Regions from separate parts of the Homo sapiens genome. Here region 2 is reported to be linked to region 1. Evidence: microRNA targets listed by miRTarBase, many of them from high-throughput screens and not tested one by one. Region 1 holds a microRNA gene; the other region holds the end of a gene's coding sequence.
What was found. Region 1 holds the annotated microRNA hsa-miR-4454 (GGAUCCGAGUCACGGCACCA, at 2,175-2,194, opposite strand). A microRNA usually pairs through its seed, bases 2 to 8, with sites in the 3' UTR of a target mRNA and lowers its output. Matches are read on the target gene's strand: a 7mer-m8 pairs with bases 2 to 8, a 7mer-A1 pairs with bases 2 to 7 and ends in A, and an 8mer does both.

Region 2: the mRNA of ENTPD4 is a reported target of hsa-miR-4454. Seed matches in the 3' UTR shown: 7mer-A1 at 2,533-2,539.

Annotation. Positions count from the first base shown.
Region 1 is chr4:163,091,433-163,094,557 of GRCh38, forward strand. MIR4454 (microRNA 4454) reads right to left here and starts at 2,196; the gene lies at 2,142-2,196.
Region 2 is chr8:23,430,203-23,433,271 of GRCh38, forward strand. ENTPD4 (ectonucleoside triphosphate diphosphohydrolase 4) reads right to left here. Exons shown (of 13, transcript NM_004901.5): 13 at 1-2,952. The coding sequence ends at 2,724. Among named protein-coding and RNA genes, the nearest start is that of ENTPD4, 26 kb to the right of the region's middle.

The sequences.
Region 1 (3,125 bases):
GAAACATAGCAAAAAATGGAAAATAGAGCATCACTTTAGTAACTGTGGAGTCAGTGACCAATGACCACAAAAGCATATTTCTGGCACAGGCTTTGTGGCTTTGGCTAAAAATACCCGTATCACCCCAGGCCCCATTCAAAGCTATATCTTGGGAGTATCTGAGTATCACATAGATCTATTAGGTTAAAAAAAATGGAGGAGACAGCAAGTTGACTGAGTTTGTTGGTAAATTCTCTAGAATCCAGCCACAAAACATATAAAAAAGAAAGACGAGAATATTTCAAGATTAACATGGCATTTTTATCATAAAGCAATGCCACGCCTGGTGAAAGAAGTAAAGTAAGCCTCAGTGTCTTGGAGGCTGATAGATATACCAGGGCGGCAGCTCCTCTTTCTTAGCTGAGTGCTAGGAGGTGAGTGGGAAGGACGGAGCAGAAATGTCTTCCTCCTACACCACTTAACCATGACCTAAGAGAACAGCCACACTAGCTTAGACTAGAATACAGGTCCCTGAAATGGTCTCCTTTCTTTTTTCTCTCTCGCTTTTTTTTTTTTTGGAGACAGAGTCTCAGTCACCCAGGCTGTAATACAGTGATGCCATCACAGCTCACTGCAGCCTTGACCTTCTGGACTCAAGCCATCCTCCCACCTCAGCCTCCTGAATAGCTGGGACTACAGGCACATACTATGCCTTGCTAAATTTTTATTTTTGTAGAGACAAGGTCTCGCTATGTTGCCTAGGCTGGTCTCAAACTCCTGGACACAAGCAATCCTCCCACCTCAACCTCCCAAAGTGCTGGGATTACAGGTGTGAACCACTGCACCCAGTCTCTTTCTTGACAGATCAAAGTGGGTGTCATTACAAAGGCAAAACTACAGAAACTTCTCTTCTCATTGATGCATTACTTTCATTTTTATTTACTACAGTTTATCTTTGTTTTAACAGGGTGAAAGGAAAACAAACGGTAAAATATTTGGCTGAAACTGAAGTTCATTGTGAATTTAAGGATGAACTTCACACTTAAAGTATAAGGCCCATGTATAAAAATGTATAAATATGCTACCAGTTTCCATTTTTAAAGATTAATTGAAAAAGATTTACTAAAGATGTAACGATTGTGAGTTTTCCTAGAATCAAGCTGAATATAACCAAAATAATGCTGTGATTTCATAGTCATGCTTTTACACTACTCTCTGTTTTAGTAGATACTGTAGCCTATTCTGAGTGCTATTTTTTTCTTTTTGTCAGCCTGGAAGATTCCTACTTAGTCTTTAAGCTACAGCATAAGTGTCACTTCCTCTGTGTTGCCCTTTCCCTGTTCTCTCCTTTAGTATCTACTGTGCCCCATAATTATTTATACGAAGGAACCTATATCATTGAATGGAAATCATTCATTTTTTTCTCTGTCATCCCTGATAAACTATCAGATCCTTAAGAGTATAGTTCTGAGTTTAGTCATTCGTATGTCTCCAAAACTTAAAACAATGTCCTGATCATGGGTGCTCAATAAATACTTATAGAGTAAATAAAGAAAAATATAAGTCTTTTTCTTATGCTTCTGATTCATCAACTTGAACCAGAAATGATAAGGCAGTTAAAGGGAGCTTATCGTAAGGGATATCATCTCTTTAAAGGGCCAGGTTGGGGGGAAATTCCAATAACCAGAACGTCTCATAGATAGAGAGCTCATGAAATTTGAAAATTGATGCCAGTATCAAAATGTCAGGAATACTGATTGTCAGGCCTCTGAGCCCAAGCCAAGCCATCGCATCCCCTGTGACTTGCACATATACATCCAGATGGCCTGAAGTAACTGAAGATCCACAAAAGAAGTAAAAATAGCCTTAACTGATGACATTCCACCATTGTGATTTGTTCCTGCCCCACTCTAACTAATCAATGTACTTTGTAATCTCCCCCACCGTTAAGAAGGTTCTTTGTAATTCTCCCCACCCTTGAGAATGTACTTTGTGAGATCCACCCCTGCCCGCAAAACATTGCTCTTAACTTCATCGCCTATCCATCCCAAAACCTATAAGAACTAATAATAATCCACCACTCTTTGCTGACTCTCTTTTCGGACTCAGCCCACCTGCACCCAGGTGAAATAAACAGCTTTATTGTTCACACAAAGCCTGTTTGGTGGTCTCTTCACACGGACACGCATGAAATTTGGTGCCGTGACTCGGATCCGGGGACCTCCCTTGGGAGATCAATCCCCCGTCCTCCTGCTCTTTGCTCCATGAGAAAGATCCACCTACGACCTCAGGTCCTCAGACCGACCAGCCCAAGAAACATCTCACCAATTTCAAATCTGGTAAGCGGCCTCCTTTTACTCTCTTCTCCAACTTCCCTCACTATCCCTCAACCTCTTTCTCCTTTCAATCTTGGCGCTACACTTCAATCTCTCCCTTCTCTTAATTTCAATTCCTTTCATTTTTTGGTAGAGACAAAAGAGACACATTTTATCCGTGGACCCAAAACTCTGGCGTGGGTGATGGAATGGGAAGGCAGCCTTCCCTTGGTGTTTAATCATTGCAGGGATGCCTCTCTGATTATACACCCACGTTTCAAGGGTGTCAGACCACGCAGGGAGGCCTGCCTTGGTCCTTCACCCTTAGCGGCAAGTCCCGCTTTCCTGGGGCAGGGGCAAGTACCTCAACCCCTTCTCTCCTTGTCTCTACCCCTTCTCTGCTTTCCTGGGGCAGGGTCAAGTACCCCAACCCCTTCTCTCCTTGTCTCTACCCCTTCTCCTTCACCCTTAGCAGCAAGTCCCGCTTTCCTGGGGCAGGGGCAAGTACCCCTCAACCCCTTCTCCTTCACCCTTAGTGGCAAGTCCCGCTTTTCTAGGGGGCAAGAACCCCCAAACCCCTTCCCTCTGTGTCTCTACGCTCTCTTTTCTCTGGGTTTGCTTCCTTCACTATGGGCAACCTTCCACCCTCCATTCCTCCTTGTTCTCCCTTAGCCTGTGTGCTCAAGAATTTAAAACCTCTTCAACTTACACCTGACCTAAAACCTAAACGCCTTATTTTCTTCTGCAACACTGCTTGGCCCCAATACAAACTCGACAGTAGTTCCAAATAGCTGGAAAATGGCACTTTCAATTTTTCCATCCTACAAGATC
Region 2 (3,069 bases), not on the chromosome of region 1:
GAATGTGATTTGCTGCGACTGCAGACATCTCCATACGGCATAATGAACTCCCTTGAGTGGTCTCTTTTTAAACAATTTTGGGTGAGGGGCAGGTTTCTTGGTTTGTTTCAAAACTCATCTTGAAAATAATCTAGACGGAAAAATCCGAAGTGAAATTCTGGTGCAACAAATATTTTAAGATTGAAGTTTGGTTACTTCTCTTGTCCATCTTTTCGTGCCCACAAATGGAAACTACATTCCTGATTTAAGAGGATGCTTCTGTCTGTATCCTTTTTTGAACTGCATTGTTCTCACAAGGACCAGCAAACTTTTTCTGTAAATATTTTAGTAAATATTCTAGGCTTTACAGGCCACATATAGTGTCTGCTGCATATTCTTCAACGTTTTTTCTTAGGCAACTGTTTAAAAATGGCAAATCCACTACTACCTCTCAGCTGGAGCAATGAGGTTTTCTCAGCCCTTGTTTCAGGATCCTCAGGTATGTGACTAACTCTTCTATGCCCAGAGCTGGAAGGCGGGGTCCCCTAACTCCCTGGGTGCCCACCTGCCCACTTCAACCATTTGTGGCCCCTTCCTTTCCTTTCTTCCCTCTCTGCTGCTGACACCAGTGGCTCCATCGCCAGCTCCCTGCAGCCTCCACCAATAATCCATGGCTCCTCCAGGAAGTGTCGCAGGCAGGTGGCCAAGACCAACTTATTAGGTAGCCAGAAGCTCACCCCTTTCTTAACAACTTTGACCACGAAGCGCAAATACGATGCAGGTAAATCCAGAGGCAGAGCCTGGGTCCCCAGGCTGCTGGTAACACGCTTTGAAATCCAGGTGAGGGAGCCATGCCCCCACAGCTCTTGCCTCAAGGATCAGATGCATTTTACCTTCCAGAGACGCAGGTTAAGCTGCACCTGAGGCAGTTTGAGCCACAACTGGGACAGAATTCCCTTGGTCTTCTCTTCTGATCCCTCAGCAGAACTGCCCCTAATGCTCAGTTCATGGCAATACAGGCCTTTTCTCTCCTGTTTCTCCAAACTCTCCCAGCCTCTGCCCAGTACCTAGTTCCAAAGCCACTTTTATAATATCCTCAGTTATCTGTTATAGCAACAACCCCACTTCTGGGTACTAATCTGCTACCAACTACAGGAATTTAACTGTTCTGGAGTTAGGGAACAGCACACACAGACACTCGCACAAAACAAACTCCACCTAAAAAAACTGTACGAGAATTCCCCAAACTTCTCAACTAAATAAATAGGTGAAAAAACACCAATCTCACATATGCCAATCCAATTGTCCTTTTTAGATTTTGGCTTAAATTGTCGAATTTTTTCCTTCAAAATGTGAATTTATTTCCTGTATTGGATGCAGACTCTTCCCTTCTGGATTTACAGTGGTGCTGCCAGCAACAGCCTCAGTCAATGCGGTTAGGAAGAGGACTCGGCAGGCTGTGCATGGGGTCTCCCAGTACGATTAAAAGCTGAGATGACTTTTAATTAAGGGGGGTGGGGGAAACACCAATTGGAAGCTGGAAGAAACTGAGGCACGATTAAGCAGAAACACTGAGGAATACTGAGCAAGAAGTGGGCATGTGCTCTAGTTCCAATAAAACCGAAACTGGTGAAACTAGGAATTTCCAATTCTTTCAAAACCACAGTGTTCTAATGCCACTGAAATATGGAATAAGGAGCGTAATTACCTGCGGTCAGGAAAAGATAACAGTAACGAGGATTTTTCTAAATAAAATGTACCAGTAAATTCTGAAGTGTGTGTTTTTAAAGAACCAGCATTGCCTCCCCTCACGCTGGTTTCTTGGGATTTTTCACACACTCGCACAAAGCTGTAGTCGATAGTTCACTATCACTTTTATAAATGGTTATCTCCTGGTGCCCATGTTTCTCTGTTTTGGATATAAATGGTTTAAAAAATTTAAATTTGCAAAGAAAACATATACAGTAACAGACCTGAACAATAAATAAAAAAAAAAATCACCCTCTTCAGGTTAGAGCTTTCAAGATAGAGAAAAAAGAGGATTATCATTTCAGGCAGTAAGTTTTTTGGTTCTATGAAAGCATCACTATTCAGTCCCCTCTCCACTGACAGAATGCATCTTTCCACCTCCCTCCAGTATCAAAGTGCATGTGTTTAAATTTAACATTCCTTAGAGAAACCCCAGAAATCTCATTTATTTTTGGCAGATATCCTGTGCAGCAAAAATCAAGTGAATTTCCCTCTTCCCCACTCCTCAATTTAATGCTGTACTCAAAATGGCTAAACGCAATACTTCTAGACAGCAGGGCTTATAAACAATGCATTTTTTTTTTTTGAGACGGAGTCTCACTCTGTCGCCCAGGCTGGAGTGCAGTGGTGTGATCTCGGCTCACTGCAAGCTCTGCCTCCCAGGTTCATGCCATTCTCCTGCCTCAGCCTCCTGAGTAGCTGGGACTACGGGCGCCCGCCACCACACCCAGCTAATTTTTTGTATTTTTAGTAGAGACGGGGTTTCACCGTGTTAGCCAGGATGGTCTCGATCTCCTGACCTCATGATCCGCCCGCCTCGGCCTCCCAAAGTGCTGGGATTACAGGCGTGAGCCACCGCGCTCGGCCTGCATTTTGTTTTTGTTTGGAGGAACAAAAAAGGGAAAGAAAAAACAAAACCACAGGAAAATAAAGAGGAGAAACCCTGAGGCAAAAATGGCTTTTCCTTTTGAGTCTTCGTGGAGCTGTGAGCTGGATCACAAGGTCCCCGGGGCATTCTGGGCGGGAAGGCCCTCCTCCATCCAGAGGGCGGCGGCCGAGCTGCTCCGGGGAGTGCGCCTGTGGATGCGCCGCAGCCGCAGCAGGTACAGCAGGATGGCCAGCAGCACCACCAGGAAGCAGCCAGAGAACAGGTAGTGGTTGTAGACAAAGGAAACGCCCCGCCAGTGGGTGTGACTGGCTCGGAAGGCCTCCTGCTGGATGTCTCTGCCCATGTGAACACCAAACAACAAACAGGACAGTAAGCAAGGAAAGGGGTGGAAAGGGTGCACAGGGGGACGGCGGGACCCAGGCCCCAGAGCTGCACTTTAGGAACTGCAACCC